Linked DNA regions of Homo sapiens. The protein of the gene in region 2 purifies or fractionates together with the protein of the main gene of each other region. This does not show direct contact. Each region holds a gene or a part of one and is shown on either strand. Other genes may lie near its edges.

Region 1 (4,494 bases), on a different chromosome or scaffold from region 2:
CTGAACCCGGGAGGCAGAGGTTGCAGTGAGCCGAGATCGTGCCACTGCATTCCGGTCTGGGCGACAGAGCAAGACTCTGTCCCTCCCCCCAAAAAAAAAAAAAAAAGTTAGCTTATACCTTAAAAATTAGGTTTACATTTAGGAAAATTTCTCCTCTCTCATTTTTTCAGTCTATGTATTTAAATATTTATGTGAAGAATCCAGCAACAGTGTTAGGATAGGGGGGTTGTGGGTTTGGGGCAGTATTAGATTTATCATATTTTAAGTTCACTGTTAAGGAAACAGATCCCCTCCATGGTGTCATCCTAAAGCAGGCCTCCTGAGCCACCTGCAGCGGTGGTGACGTTCTGTTTCCTGGGAGCCTCTGCACCAGTGGCTTTTACTGTGGCAGCCTCTCTCAGGAAGGTCCTACACTACATGCAGGCCAGGTTGGTAGATGTGGCAAAGCCATCAGAATGAGGTTTTTGATGCAGAATAAGAGGGGCTTACATCTGATCTGAAGGAAAAACGTGGGCCTTCTGCAGTCCTTGATGTTAGGACTGTAATCTGTGGTTTTCCAGGCCAGTGACTCTCATAACCATGCTCCTGGCAGACACCAGGGGCTTGGCAAGGTAGCCTGAGAGGTGGGTGCTTGGTTGGTTTCTACAAATGCAGAGAAATGTAGACTTTTTACGGTGTTAACTTTTTGTCTTATTAATCTTTTTTAAAATCATTGGTGCCTACTTATTAACACATGAACAAAGAGCAATTAACAAAGCACCCAAGCCAGCACATGGCTTCTTGCTTACGTTTTCCACGGTGTGGTTTTTACATTCAGACATGATTTACATATGTTTTTCCTCATATAAATTGTTTTTAGTTCATATGTTTTTCCTCATATAAGTTGTTCTTAGTTCATGTGACAGAATTAAACGTATCCCTATGTATCAAGGTATTCTAAGACTACCTTCAGGGACCATTTGTATAGTTCATTACTAGAAGTTTCTCTGAACATGTAGAACACTGAAAAAAGTATTTACTTTTTTTTTTTTTTTTTTTTTTTGAGACAGAGTTTCACTCTTATTGCCCAGGCTGGAGTGCAATGGCGTGATCTCGGCTTACTGCAAACTCCGCCTCCAGGTTCAAGCAATCTCCTGCCTCAGCCTCCCGAGTAGGTGGGATTACAGGCATGCGCCACCACGCCCGGCTAATTTTGTATTTTTAGTAGAGATGAGGTTTCTCCATGTTGGTCAGGTTGGTCTTGAACTCCTGACCTCAGGTGATCCTCCCACCTCGGCCTCCCAAAGTGCTGGGATTACAGGCGTGAGCCACCATGCCTGGCCAAAATAAAAGGTATTTTAGGCTGGGTGCGGTGGCTCACACCTGTAATCCTCGCACTTTGGGAGGCCAAGGCGGGTGGATCACCTGAGGTCAGGAGTTCGAGACCAGCCTGGCCAACATGGCGAAACCCCGTCTCTACTAAAAATACAAACATTAGGTGGGCGTGGTGGCAGCCAACTGTAATCCCAACTACTCGGGAGGCTGAGGTAGGAGAATCACATAAACCCAGGGTGTGGGAGGAGGTTGCAGTGAACCGAAATTGTGCCATTGCACTCCAGCCTGGGCGACAGAGCAAGACTCTGTCTCAGGAAAAATAAAAAAGTATTCTACCCCAGAATCCACCCTGGAACCTTGGAGAATTGGTGTAAAAGGGACAAATGACTGAGCCAGTTGGAGAACCAGTGGCTTGAGGGAGCCTTAGTGGTAGACACAGTGATTTTGGAGCCTCTTTGGGTCTAACCTTGGAAAGTAAAATCTACCAAGTTATGATCTGCTTTGTATGCTAGAATATTAAAAATTTATTTGTGGAAACATCCAAATTATTTTCTAAGAGACTAGCATGTAACAATTGAAGTCAAAGAAGGGCTGTCTGCTGCTGGCAAAATCCAGGAAACCCTTCATTCTCTGGGTGATTTAGATTCAGGTCCATTGCCACAGCCTGTTGGCAAACTGGCTGCGATCTAACTCTGGTTTGGATTGTCAGGTAGCAGTGTCTAGGTACTGGAAAGAAGTTAAAGCAAAGTTTATTTTTCCTTTGTACAAAGGTTAAAAACTCTCACTCAACATCTTATTTTGATATTTGGGTTTTTACCATAGGAGTATCCAACCCTTACAACCTTCTTCGAAGGAGAAATAATCAGCAAAAAACACCCTTTCTTAACTCGCAAGTGGGATGCAGATGAAGATGTTGATCGGAAACACTGGGTGAGTAAATCTGATCTGTGCTGGGTCATCTAGGGGCTGCTAGAGAATTGAAGAAATGCTGGGAGCCAGAGACCTTGTCCCTTATTGAGGATTACTGGGGCTTTGCAACCAAGTAAAAGGTTGCACTGCACACAGACCTCAGTTGTTCCATCTTCCTTATGAGGACAGTTTAAATACGATCTGACCTGCTGCTTAAATAGCAAATGGTTGTCTGATGATAGCAACCCCAGAGTTCCAGCCAGAACTCTGCTCAGCTATCAGAATCTTAACAGTGTCCCCCCATCCTTCCCACCTGTTTGTCCATCTTCTGTCCACTGTTCCTTTCAAATCACCTCTGCTTGGGGAAAACCCTGTGAAACATGCAATGATGACCTCCGGCTTCGGGGCTGGCATGAGATGGAGATGATGTTGTGGGAATCTGCCTGCCCACTGGCTTATCAGGGCAGAGCCACATCATTTCTTTTTATCCTGGCTGCTGACAGACAAGTATAGTCTTGTCTTAAGTACACCACTATAAATCCTGCTGCCCCCCTTTTTAACTGTCAAGTGTAGAGCATTCTCACTCAGCAGTAGTGAATGCTTCAAGACAGTTAGTGTCCTGGGATCTTTTCATTTGTTGTCATATAAGTACCATGTCTTCAAAAATCAGTGTCTCGGCTGGGCGCGTTGGCTTGCGCCTGTAATCCCAGCACTTTGGGAGGCCGAGGCGGGCGGATCACCAGGTCAGGAGATTGAGACCATCCTGGCTAACACGGTGAAACCTCGTCTCTACCAAAAATACAAAAAATTAGCTGGGCGTGGTGGTGGGCACCCGTAGTCCCAGCTACTCTGGAGGCTGAGGCAGGAGAATGGCGTGAACCCAGGAGGCGGAGCTTGCAGTGAGCCGAGATTGTGCCACTGCGCTCCAGCCTGAGCAACAGAGTGAGACTCCGTCTCAAAAAAAAAAAAAAAAAAATCATTTTCTCAACCTAATAGCCTTTTGCTTTAGTTGACCATGGTGATGGTGAATTTTTGTTTAACATTGAAGAAGTTCAATGGGTTTACCCTCCATAAACCAACCAGAAATGGCTGTGTCAGTAGCAAAGATTCTAGAACTCGTTCTTCCCATTGCCTCTCACACCTGGCTATCTAAACTCTCCCCTGGTTCTGGCACAGCAGTCTGTGGAGAGAACTCCCGCAGACCCTTGTCTTGAGTTCACCTCACTAGAGATCAGTTGCTTTGCTTACTAATGTTTTTTATTTGTTTATTTTATTTAAAAAAAATTTTTTTTAGAGTTGGGGTCTTGCTCTGTCGTCTATGCTGGAGTGCAGTGGCATGATTATAGCTCACTATAGCCTCAACCTCCTGGGCTCAAGTAATCCTCCCACCTCCGCGCCCCAAGTAGCTAGAACTACAGGCACGTGCCACCACACTGAGCTCATTTTCTTTTATTTTTGTAGAGACAGAGTCTCCCTATGTTACCCAGGCTGGTCTTGAACTCATGATCTTAAGTGATCCTCTTGCCTTGTCCTCCCAAAGTGCTGGGATTATAGGTGTGAGCCACTGACCCAACCTGTTTTTTTGGTTTTTCTTTTATGGGGGTTTTTGTTTTGTTTTGTTCTGTTTTGTTTGGTTTGGTTTTGAGACAGAGTCTCAGTCTGTCACCCAGGCTGGAGTGCAGTGGCGTAATCTCGGCTCACTGCAACCTCTGCTCACTGCAACCTCCGCCTCCCAGATTCAAGTGATTCTCATCTCTCAGCCTCTCAAGTAGCTGGGATTACAGACGTGCACCACCGTGCCTGGCTAATTTTTGTATTTTTAGTAGAGACAAGGTTTCGCCATGTTGGCCAGGCTGGTCTTGAACTCCAGGCCTCAAGTAATCCTCCTGCCTTGGCCTCCCAAAGTGCTGGGATTACAGGCGTGAGCCACCATGCCCAGCCCCAAGCTGTTTTTTACTTGAGTAAAAAAAGGAGATCTATCAAATACTGAGGTTCAGTTAAATTTAAATTTAAACTTGAGCTTTTTAAAGCGTTTTTTGAATTCTATACATTTTGATTGTTGTAGCAAATGGACACTAAAAACTAGACAGTCATTTGTGTCTCTCTGTGATACAAGAGAATGCACAAGACCTGAGTATCCAGAAGGTTGGGGGAGCCCAAGTGGTGTATGAAGGTGCTGGCCACCAGCAGGTGGAGTTGGAAGGGCTCCCTAGTACCATCTGCGCCCACCCCTGCCCAGGGCTAGGCTCTTCCTGCATGGCTTGCTGCCTC
Region 2 (3,500 bases):
TGCCCAGGCTGGAGTGCAGTGGCGTGATCTTGGCTCACTGCAACCTCCACCTCCTGGGCTCAAGCAATTCTCCTGCCTCAGCCTCCATAGTAGCTGGGATTACAGGTGTCTACCACCATGCCCAGCTAATTTTGGTATTTTTAGTAGAGATGGGGTTTCACCATGTTGGGCAGGCTGGTCTCAAACTCCTGACCTCAAGTGATCTGCCCATCTCCGCCTCCCAAAGTGCTGGGATTACAGGCGTGAGTGACTGCACCCAGCCAAGATCTTTTTTTTCTCATAAATCATCAATTACAAATTTCAGAAAGAGAAAAATAATTTTTTGAATTGCCCCTTAGTTACAATCATGGAATTTCACTTGTAAAACAAGCCTGATTTGAAAAAAAAACAAAACAAAACAGATGTTTAAATCTATCAGCTTTTTTCCTTATTACACTATCTCATTTTACAAAGTATATGAAATTGCATATAAAAACACATATAAAAATAGGAAAAAATGTGAAATACCACAAAAAATCCAGACCACAGAAAATGTACAGTTTCTTTAGAAACTGTCTATTGTACCATACTTAAAAGAATCTTAACTATTATACCAAGACAATCTTTTAGTCACCCATTTACACTAAGAAGTACTGAAATCACAATGCACTTCTGATTTTAGTATGAAGAGAGAAATTCAAGGAAAAGATGAGAAAGTCAGCTCCACTGTCTTCACAATAAAAGCTGTATTAAAGTCTTGAAGCTAATATAAATTTAGATCTCCACAGGCTTCACAGCCAAATGCAGCTTAAACTGAGAAAAGTTATGAAGACCTACTTGTAAGAATAAATATAAGAAGAGCTCTCTTTTAAGGCACCATTTAGACAATAAGCCTGAAATAATTTAACTCTACTTACTGCTTTTTGTTCCACATATCTTAGTTGACCTCTTTCTCTTGGTTGATAAAAACATATACAAATCCCTGTCCGTCCAGCTCTACCTGTGCGTCCAGAGCGATGGATATAGGACTCAACATCCTAAAGATTATAAAAGGTAATATTTTTTAAAAATCTAGCAAGTTGCAGTCATTCCGGAATCCAAATAATAATGTTAATAATAATATATTTATTTCAATCCTGTTGCCCTTTTCAACATTCCAAACAATTTATATGTGTGGATTTTGGGGTAAAGGCAATATGATTTAAAACCTTTTAATCCACCTCATCCCAGGTTTCTTTATGGCAACTTTTTGTAATTCTCTGCCTGATTTTGTTGCTCCATGCTTCAAATACAAACAATAGAGTTAATCATCTGCAAAAGTATCAGAATCTGATAAATTTAATAGCACACTAACAAAAAATGGCTAAGAGCAAGAAGAGATGACATATTTTTCACATCCCAAGCAATATGTTGTAAATTAAATGGGAATTTATAAAATTGCTCTTATTTTTCCCAAATCAAATCCCATTTCCTACCTGAGGAGGAGAACTTTGAATCACCAGGTCAACTTCAGGAATGTCCAAACCACGGGCAGCCACATTGGTTGCCACCAAAACTTTAAAACTACCTTCTCTGAAGCCTTTTAGTGTAATTTCTCTTTGTGACTGTGCAATGTCCCCATGTAAACACTGGGCATTCTATTTGAGAAAGGGGGAGAAAATTAAGTGTACAGCTCATACTTGCAACTGATAGCACAACAACATCTAGTCTGTGCTCCTTTTGCATGTTTTTAAATCTTACTTTGATGATTTTAACAATGCATGCTTACTGTAAAAAAAAAAAGTCAAACATGACAGAAAATATTTAACATAAAATGTAAAAGCTTCCCTAATACTAGTGACTTAGAAATAATTCACTGCTAAGAGTTTGGTAAATATTCTGTCAGATTTTTTTTTTTTTTTAGACAGAGTTTTGCTCTTATTGCCCAGGCTGGAGTGCAATGGAGCGATCTTGGCTCACTGCAACCTCTACCTCCCAGGTTCAAGCGATTCTCCTACCTCAGCCTCCCGAGTAGCTGGGATTACAGGTGCCTGCCACTATGCCCAGCTAATTTTTGTATTTTTAGTAGAAACAGGGTTTCACCATGTTGATCAGGCTGGTCTTGAACTCGCTGACCTCAGGTGATCCGCCAGCCTCTGCCTCCCAAAGTGCTGGGATTACAGGCGTGAGCCACCACACCCGGCCACTTTTTTTTTTTAATACACACATACTCACATTACACTAGCATATACTATGACTTTATGTATTTATTTATAACGTGGATATTACATAGGTAGGGTTTTGTAACCTACTTGATAAATTTAGTGTATCTTAGCTATCCACATCTATAGATAAAATGCTACTTAATTTTTTTAAACTGTATATAATTTATTCATATGGATGCACCAGCATCTATTTTAGCAATATCCTACTGATGAACTTTTGGGCTGTATTCACATTTTCACCTTTAGAAACAATGCTGCAATGGGCCGGGCATGGTGGCTCACACCTGTAATCCCAGCACTCTGGGAGGCCGAGACAGGCAGATCACCCGAGGTCAGGAGTTTGAGACCAGCCTGGCCAACATGGTGAAACTCTGTCTCTACTAAAAATACAAAAAATTAGCTAGGCGCAGTGACAGGCACCTGTAATTCCAGCTACTTGGGAGGCTGAGACAGGAGAATAGCTTGAACCCGGGAGGTGGAGGTTGCAGTGAGCTGAGATCGTGCCATTGCACTCCAGCCTGGGGGACAAGAGTGAAGCTTCATCTCAAAAAAAAAAAAAACAAACAAACAAACAATGTTGCAATGAACAACTTTGTAACTTTGTACTTGTATCTCTGGATGCCTCAGTATCTGTATATTTCAGTAGGATACATATCTAGAAGTTGAATTTCTGGGTCAAAAATTATGAACATGTAGCATTTTAACAGAAACTGTATTATTTAAAAAACTGTATTATAAAAAAAGTTGTGTACCTTTTATTCTTCAATACTCTATGAGTATTTATTTCAACATACCCTACCCAGCTTGTGTATATTATAAATCATTGTAATCTTTGTGAATTTAATAGGCAAAAATAATTTCCCAATGTTGTTTTAATTTACATGTCTGTAATTTTTAGTGACACTGAACCTATTTATATTAGGTAGATCTTCATCTCTGCTGCATTAGTGACACTGAACCTATTTATATTAGGTAGATCTTCATCTCTGCTGCAAATTTCCTGGTATTATAAATACACTTCCTAGTATTCCTGGCCACTATATTAAAGTCAAAAAGTTCATAACAATGATCAGGCCAGGCTCAGTGGCTCATGCCTGTAATCCCAGCACTTTGGGAGGCTGACGTGGGTGGATCACTTGAAGTCAGGAGTTCAAGACCAGCCTGGCCAACATGGTGAAACCTCATCTCTACTAAAAATACAAAGATTAGCCAGGTATGGTGGTGCATGCCTGTAATCCCAGCTACTCGAGAGGTTAAGGCAGGAGAATCATTTGAACCCAGGAGGTAAAAGTTGCAGTGAGCCGTAATCGCTCCACT
Region 3 (4,494 bases), on a different chromosome or scaffold from region 2:
ATTAGATATTACTTTCTACTTACTTCAAAGAAAAATTTAGCAAAGGTCTAAGAATTTAATTCATAGGATCCTGACTACTCTTCAGTTGCTGATTTAATCTTATATTGAACTATTAATTTATATCTTGGCAATTAACATTTACCAGGCATTTATTAAATACCAGTTACTGTGTTAAGTGCTTTATATGAACTAACTCCTTTAATCTTCCCAATAACTGTACCAAATACTACTGGAATGTCCTTTTTTTTTTTTTTTTCTAGATGATCAACTAAAACTCAGAGAGGATTAGTAACTGCCTAGGTTACACATTAAGGAGCAAATAGAGATTTTGCCAAAGGCAGACAGATTCCTGTGTTCTTAACCACAGAAACCTTGGCTATTCTCTCTCTTCTCATTCATAAAAACACTATCCCTAATTGTTTGTTTTGCTACATAATCTCCCTTTCTAAATCTAAAACAGATAAGAGATTTGTAGATAGGATGGAAAATGAGCTGTTCATGACTGGCCACTAATTAATTTTGGTAAATGGAAAGAAGGAATTAACTTCTCCAACTGAAATCCAAAGCAAAAGAGCCGAAATGCAGTAGAGTGGGAAACGAATAAGATTTAAGAGTAAAAGCTTTCTCTTAGGCAGACAGTCATGACAAGCAAATCCTAAGACTGCACCTGACCGAGTCAATATTTGCTCATTCAACACTACTTCTACTTGTTCATTACAAGGGTTTATCTGGAAGGTTACAGATAAATCAGTTACTGAATCCATATGAGCACTGCCCTGGAAAAAAATAAAGATAAAAAGGCAATCCCATGGATGTTGCAAAACAAACTCACTCTAAAATTGTGGCTGAATAATTATTCTTGTATTACTCTTGGCTCACTTTCAACTAATTAAATGGCCACAATAGAATCAGTACTGACACAGCATTCCAAAGATGCACAGGACCTTCACACTGCCAGTATGTTTTCCTTAATATAATAATTGACTCAAATAAAACAATTTACTCAGATCCAGCATCAGCATCTTGTTCTTGCAGGTCTCGGAGAAGAGCTTTCACTTTCTCTTGATTCTCAGAAGTCATATGTAGAGTCTGAAGGGGTACTTTGGCTTTGGGTTTCCATTTTGGGCGTGACTCTCCTTTGCTTATGTTACTGTTGCTAGGTCTATAGAGAACAAAAGAGCAAAATTACACACATATCTTCAATCAGAACTTTTACACTCTCCTCAGGGGTCCCCAGATATACACAATACAAACTGGATTGTCAAGTATCTTACAAAAGATGACAATGAATGTGAGGAGATTCTCCATTTTCTATAGTATTTACCAGACTTCATTATATCAGACCTGCTGGAAAAAAACCTTATCAGATTCTTGGCCAGGCGCAGTGGCTCACGCCTGTAATCCTGGCACTTTGGGAGGCCGAGGCTGGCGGATCACCTGAGGTCAGGAGTTTCAGACCAGCCTGGCCAACATGGTGAAATGCTGTCTCTACTAAAAATACAAAAATTATCTGGGCGTGGCAGTGCGCTCCTGTAATCCTAGCTACTCAGGAGGCTGAGGCAGGAGAATCACTTGAACTTGGAGGTAGAGGTTGCAGTAAGCCAAGATTGTGCCACTGCACTACAGCCTGGGCAACAGAGCGAGATTCCGTTTAAAAAAAAAAAAAACAACAAAACTTAACAGATTCTTAATCATTAATTCTGGCTTCACTAACTCAAGAATCCTTAGGAAAAAGCAATGCTAATGATGGTTTCCTCTGCACTATAGGACATGAAGAGCATTTCATTTCATTCTGCATTAAAATCTGAAAACCACTGAGTTTCATTCTTCCTTGTGAATATTAAGGCCCCATTTCTAAAATACCCAATTATCTTTATTTCTGATTATTAAAAAAAAAAAAAAAAAGGCCAGGGGCATTGGCTCACACCTGTAATTCCAGCACTTTAAGAGGCTGAAGTGGTAGGATTGCTTAAGCCCCAGGAGTTCGAGACCAGCCTGGGCAATATAGCAAGATCCTGTCTCTATTTAAAAAAAAAGAAATAAAAAAATTACACAGCATATATAATCTCTTATGATTTGTCTGATCATTAGGAAATGATCAGTTAAACATGAGGGGGAGTTGGGAGTTTCACATGCTCCTATCTTAAAGTCATCCTTTATCTTAAAGTCAGCCTTTCTATTTGTAAACTATATGCCAATCTCTTTAATCTCCTCAAGGAAATCATTCCAGCACTTATCCCCCTTTCTAAATCACTGGTTTTTCATTCTTCTTTGGATCATTCCCATCAGCATACAGACATACTATAAGGTCTACCCTCTTAAAAAAATGAAACCAAGCCAAATCCTCCCTTGAGTGCACATCTCCCTGTAGCTACTGACCCATCTCTCCTCCCTCTAGCTCCCTTATAGTAAAACTTCTCATTTAGGTTATCAAAATCATTGTCTCTGTCTCCATTTTCTTTCCTCTTCTCTCTGAAACACAACCCAATCAGTATTTCCTATGCTACTACAGCTCTTGTCAAGGTTAACCATGATACCCACATTGTCAAATGCAGTGGACAATTCTTAGTGCACATTTTCCTTGACCTACCAGAAGCATTTTTCCACAAATGTGTACCCTCTTTAAGCATACAATTCGATCTTATTGGCTACTCTCCTTTAAAACACCTTTGTCCCTTGGCTTCCAAAAACCACTCTCTTAGTTTCCTACTTCATTGGCAGCTCCTTCTCAATCCCCTTTGTTTTTCATACTTTCTCTTAGCTTTATTTATTTTTTAACTAAAAATTTTTATTGACACATAATAATTGTACATTCTTTATACGGTTGATAATGGTTTGGCTGCAAGTCAAATCTCATCTTCAATTGAAGTTCCCATAATCCCCACATGTTATGGGAGGGAACCGGTTGGAGGTAGTTGAATCATGGGGGCAGTCTCCCCCATGCTATTCTCGTGATAGTGAGTAACTTCTCACGAGATCTGATGGTTTTATAAGGGGTGTCCCCCTTTACTTGGCTCTCATTCTTCTTTCTCCTGCCACCTTGTGAAGAAGGATGCTTTTGCTTCCCCTTTCAGCATGATTGTAAGTTTCCTGAGGCCACCCCAGCCCTGTGGTACTGTGAGTCAATTAAACCTCTTTCCTTTATAAATTACTCAGTCTTGGGTATGTCCTTATAGCAGCGTGAGAATGGACTAATACAGGGGTACATGTGCTATTTTGATACATGCATACAATGTGTAGTGATCAAATCAGGGTAATTAGGATATCTAACACCTCACACATTTATCATTTCTTTGTGTTGGGAACATTCCAAATTCTCTTAGCTTTAAAACCTAGAGTGTCCCAGGGCTCAAACATCAGATACCTTCTCTATTCGATTTTATCCAGACTCAGAACTTTAGCATTTATCTATAGAAGACTCACACATTTACATCTCCAGCCTAGATCTTTTTCTTGAACCTCAGATTTATATATTAAATTATCTATTTTATATCTACACTTGGAGAACATCTCCTAACTGGTCTCCTTGCTTTCAACTCATGCCCCTTTATAGTTTATTCTCTACAAAGCACACCCAGTCAATGCTATTGAGTATAGATTCATAGACTGTACACTGCACAAAGGTTCCTGGCTGGGAGGGAAGAAGAGGGAGGAAGGGACAGCAAAATCCGGTCCATGTTCTGCTGGCTAAGCCATGATCCTGGTGTGGGGCTATAACTGTCCAAAGGAAGGAGCACCATTTTCTAATTCACATAAAGGCATACACTGAATAGAAACAACTCTGGCCAGACTGACTGATAATATCACACACCCTTGCCTCAAACCCTCCAAAGGCCTTCTGTCTTACTTCATGTAAAAGCCAAAGTCCTAATAATGGCCCATGAAGTCCTATACAGTCTGGTCTTTCTGATCTAATTGCCTACCACTTGCCTTCTTGCCCACTCATTCTAGCCACATGGTTCTTTGCTATTTCCTAAACCTTCCAAGCACATTCTTGCCTTAAGAAATTGCTCTTCCCTCTGCCTTGAATGCTGTACTCAGAACTTCACAGCTTATTCCTTTACTTACTTCTTGCCTCTCTTCACGTGATACCTTATTAGGGGGGCTTTCTACATAAATTAACAATTCTATTTTGGTATTTTATATCCCTGTTACACTCCTTTATTTCTCTCCATAGCATGCGGCACCTGGTAATGTTATACATTTGTTTATGGTTTTTCTATCTCAAATCCCATTCTATCTAGATAAGGACAATATTTTACTCCCTGCTGCAATTCCAAGTCCCTAAAACAGTGCCTGGTGCATGGTAGGCATTCAGTAAATACTTACCAAATGAATGAACATCTACGGACTCCAAGAACCTATAATGTCCATGTTTTGAAAAACTATGGAGCTGCAGCTAACTCAGAAGTTAGGTTCTTGGCTAGGCACAGTGGCTCACGCCTGTAATTCCAACACTATGGGAGGCCAAGGCAGGAGAATCGCTTGAGCCCA
Region 4 (4,494 bases), on a different chromosome or scaffold from region 2:
ACAAATCTCAGCACAGTCACTTTTCTTTGTAAGTTACTTTACCTGTGTGTGCCTTAGTGTCTTCCTCTGTAAAACTGTACATATCTCAGGACTGTTGTGAGCATCAAATGACCCATTCCATTTAAAGTTCATAGAACGCTGACTGACACGTGGACAGTGCTCTATATAGTTAATCATTATTGTCATCCATATATATTCGTCCATACTGCGTCTATGGATGGAATCCAAGGGAAGGGTTACTGGTTTTGTTATGTATTATGTTCTATGTTATAACGAATTCCATGCCATTGCATACTGTTTTCTTAGACTCTGTAGTCAGGTTATTGGCAACAAATTTTTATCTTACAAGAAACAACTATTTAATAATAGGAACATAAGTGTAGTTTAATTGCCCTATGGGATTTATTAGATGTCAAGGCTGATTCCAAGGAAGATTGTGTTTTACAAAAATGGGTCTTTTAGGCTTACAGTTCTTACTTTCATTATTTGTATATCTGATAACATGCGTATTAAATGTGTGCATTTATAAGTATTTTAATGCCTTCATCTTTTTTTTCCCCAGTATTACAGCGTGAAATAAATTCCCAGTATTTTTCAAGATTATGTAAAAGGAGTTGTAATTACTGCTCAGCACCTAGGACAGCACCCAGTGCAACACAATGTACATGAACTCTGGCTTGAGGTTTGGGGCTTGTGTTCTGCATTCAGGAAAGAAAAGAAGAGAAAGTTTTTGGGAAATTTAAATCTTCGTAAGCCCTTACTCTAAAAGTATATGAAATGCAGAATGGTTTCATGGCTTTATTTCAAAATGTTTTACACTGGCTGTAGAACCCACTTCATGAAGTAGTTTGAGTTAAAATGATCTAATATTTGTGTTTTAACTTTCAGCTTTGTGTTATTCTTGGAAAATTTCGCACCACTTGTGAATTCCTTGAACCTGGGCATTGCAAACCCACTTCTGTTGGGCCCATCTCCTTTGCACTTTGCTCAGATTAAGACTCAGTTGGCGCTTCAGCAGCTGAATGCCGTTGCCTCACATGGTTCAACACCACCTTATACTTTATTAAATCAGGCTTTCTTGAAAATAGCCATGTCGAGACCCAGGTTTAATCCTCGAGGAGACTTTCCACTTCAAAGGCCACGAGCACCTAACCCTTCTGGGATGAGGCCTCCAGGACCATTTATGAGGCCTGGATCTATGGGTCTCCCAAGATTTTACCCAGCAGGGAGAGCACGTGGAATTCCACACAGATTTGCTGGCCATGAATCTTATCAGAACATGGGGCCACAGAGAATGAATGTTCAGGTAACTCAACACAGAACTGATCCAAGATTGACCAAAGAAAAACTGGATTTTCATGAAGCACAACAGAAGAAGGGGAAGCCTCATGGTAGCCGGTGGGATGATGAGCCTCATATATCTGCATCAGTGGCAGTGAAACAGAGTTCTGTAACACAGGTTACAGAGCAGAGTCCCAAAGTACAGAGCCGCTATACAAAAGAGAGTGCCTCAAGTATCTTAGCAAGTTTTGGATTATCTAATGAAGACCTAGAAGAACTTAGTCGCTATCCTGATGAACAACTAACTCCTGAAAATATGCCATTAATTTTGAGGGATATAAGAATGCGAAAAATGGGGCGCCGATTACCTAATTTACCTTCTCAGAGCAGAAATAAAGAAACACTTGGTAGTGAAGCAGTTTCAAGTAATGTGATCGATTATGGGCATGCAAGCAAATATGGCTACACAGAAGATCCACTTGAAGTACGTATTTATGATCCTGAAATTCCAACTGATGAGGTCGAGAATGAATTTCAGTCACAGCAGAACATTTCTGCATCTGTTCCCAATCCAAATGTGATATGTAATTCTATGTTTCCTGTTGAAGACGTATTTCGCCAAATGGACTTCCCCGGTGAGTCCTCCAATAATCGGTCCTTTTTCTCAGTTGAGAGTGGAACCAAGATGTCAGGCTTACACATTTCAGGAGGACAGTCAGTCCTTGAACCCATAAAATCCGTCAACCAATCCATTAACCAAACAGTTAGCCAGACAATGAGTCAATCTCTGATTCCTCCATCTATGAACCAGCAACCTTTTTCGTCGGAATTAATTTCATCTGTAAGCCAGCAAGAGCGGATCCCACATGAACCTGTGATTAATTCATCTAACGTACATGTTGGATCAAGAGGAAGTAAAAAGAATTACCAGTCACAGGCTGACATTCCCATTCGGTCTCCCTTTGGTATTGTGAAAGCATCCTGGCTACCAAAGTTTTCACATGCTGATGCCCAGAAGATGAAGAGACTTCCAACTCCTTCTATGATGAATGATTATTATGCAGCATCTCCAAGAATATTTCCACATTTGTGTTCTCTGTGTAACGTAGAATGTAGTCATTTGAAGGTGAGTGTTTTTAAAAAAAGATCACTGTATAATGATGCTCAGCGCCAGTTTTCTCTAAATTCTGATATGTATGCTGCTTGTTAACTAGGCGTTAAGGAAATGGCAGAAGGTAATTTTAATTGCAACCTCAATACATAGTTGTAATCTTAAGTAGCCCTGGCCTTAGTACTGAATTGAATTTTAGGCTTACTGTATTCCTATGACCGGGCACACCATATTTTAGTAGTGTGTCCATTTATTTTGAACTTTTAGTTATCCCACTTACGCAACATAAAATTTATGTAACATAAGCTGCGTACTTACAAGACAATGTCACATGGAATCACCTTTCTCTAAAAGGATCTGTTAGTATAAAAATACAAAGAGATGGTATAACCCATTTGTAATGCACACATTTAAGAGACAGTATATTATAGCCTTGCACATATACACCTGTCTTGGGATAAAGACAATTAATGTTGATTTAAATATTTCCTGACTTTATGTAGACTAGTGATTTTTAGTATTTTTTGAGAAGAAGCTTTCTAAAATAACTTCATAGCAAAAATAAGTCAAGGTGCAGTAATTATTCTGGGACCAGCTGTGGACTCAGAAAATAGTGTAAAATGATAGAAATTTGTAGAGAAAAATCTTTAAAAAATAAAGATGATTTAGGTAGTTTGATAGTATAGTTAGAAGGAAGTATTTTGCAGAGGCAGTGAAGTGTACTATAATGTAGAACATACTGTTCAGTCGTAATCATTGGTAGATTTGAGCAGGAATTTCCAAGTAAATTTTATTTACTTACGTATGGTTGGCAATCACTGTTTCTTCTATTTACTAATGTGATTTATAGATTTAGATTGTAAAGGGTCAGAAGAGAATATACTAACATGGGAAAAAGCTTTGATTCAAGGCCATGGCCTGGAATTGGTTGTATACTTAGGCTTAAAAATCTGTGTGTTAACGCTCTTGTTCTTTTCTTCCAGTGCTGCCTTTCGATTTTCTTTTCATTATTTACTCACTAGGTTTTCGTCAACATGAATCTGATAATTAGATCTGTTGGTATTTTCTTAAGGTTAACTCCAGCAAAAGAAAGCAGCATTCTACCCCATTTTAGCCAGATGTGCCAAATTCTATTAAAATAATAGTTGCCTTATTCCATCAGAAGGGATAGCAAAGTCCTTACAAGGGAAAGTCTTAGAATAATTCATATCACCTAATTGTAATCTGTAAGTAGCCCTGGCCTAAGTAGTGAATTGAGTGTTTGTCTGTATTCTTGTGACTGGGCATACCACATAATTTTTTTTAATTGATTTTGAACTTTTAATTAATCATAATGAATCCAAGAAAATACATCTTTAAATAAAGAACTTGAAGTTTTGTATTCTGTAGAGTAGAAAAGGTGTACATTTAATTTAGTATGTACTTATGGATACCAGTTTTGTACTTGACTCCAATTAGGTACTGGGGCAGAAATGAGGAACTGTGTAAAATTTTAGATGTTATTAAGCAGTTTATTCAGTCTTATTGGGGAGAAAAATTATGCTCCCAAGACATTTAAAACAATTAGAAGACAACAAGTGGTTTTGTGATTGATTTAACTTGTTTGGATATGCTGTAGGGGACAGAGATTTCTGTCTTGATTTCAGGCATGTATCACTCAGGCCAGCATCATCAATTTACCAATTTAATCATTACCAATTTGCCAATTTAATTATTTTAACTATTGTATTTGTAACAGTATGTGTTTAAAAATAAGTATAAATATGCATCCTGACATCAAAAGACTTTTATAGCCTAGTTAGACTAATGGAATGTCAGTTACTAAATGCACTAAGTCTGTCTTGACTAGAATGATGTGGGAGAGAAGACTTCATGGAGTAGGTTGAAGATGGGTCTTGAATTGAGGCTTTAGATATGCCTGTATAAAGAGGAGGAGGGGGCCGGGCACAGTGGCTCACTGCCTGTAATCCCAGCACTTTGGGAGGCCGAGACAGGTGGATCACCTGAGGTCAGGAGTTCAAGACCACCCTTACTGACATGGTGAAATCCTGTCTCTACTAAAAATACAAGAATTAGCCGGGTGTGGTCATGCGCACCTGTAA

Evidence for each region.
Region 1: the proteins of DDX50 (region 2) and GID4 purify together in Homo sapiens (affinity purification with mass spectrometry; one large-scale study listed by BioGRID and IntAct). This does not show direct contact.
Region 3: the proteins of DDX50 (region 2) and DHX57 purify together in Homo sapiens (affinity purification with mass spectrometry; one large-scale study listed by BioGRID and IntAct). This does not show direct contact.
Region 4: the proteins of DDX50 (region 2) and ZNF638 purify together in Homo sapiens (affinity purification with mass spectrometry; one large-scale study listed by BioGRID and IntAct). This does not show direct contact.

Annotation. Positions count from the first base shown.
Region 1 is NC_000017.11:18,051,991-18,056,484, forward strand, and holds part of GID4 (glucose-induced degradation protein 4 homolog), read left to right. Parts: intron 1-2,136; coding exon 2,137-2,244; intron 2,245-4,494.
Region 2 is NC_000010.11:68,932,315-68,935,814, reverse strand, and holds part of DDX50 (ATP-dependent RNA helicase DDX50), read right to left. Parts: intron 1,617-3,500; coding exon 1,455-1,616; intron 1,017-1,454; coding exon 897-1,016; intron 1-896. UniProt on the Homo sapiens protein: ATP-dependent RNA helicase that may play a role in various aspects of RNA metabolism including pre-mRNA splicing or ribosomal RNA production.
Region 3 is NC_000002.12:38,862,358-38,866,851, forward strand, and holds part of DHX57 (putative ATP-dependent RNA helicase DHX57), read right to left. Parts: intron 1,163-4,494; coding exon 1,004-1,162; intron 1-1,003. UniProt on the Homo sapiens protein: Probable ATP-binding RNA helicase.
Region 4 is NC_000002.12:71,347,865-71,352,358, forward strand, and holds part of ZNF638 (zinc finger protein 638), read left to right. Parts: intron 1-562; exon of another isoform or gene 563-888; 5' UTR 889-1,090; coding exon 1,091-2,407; intron 2,408-4,494.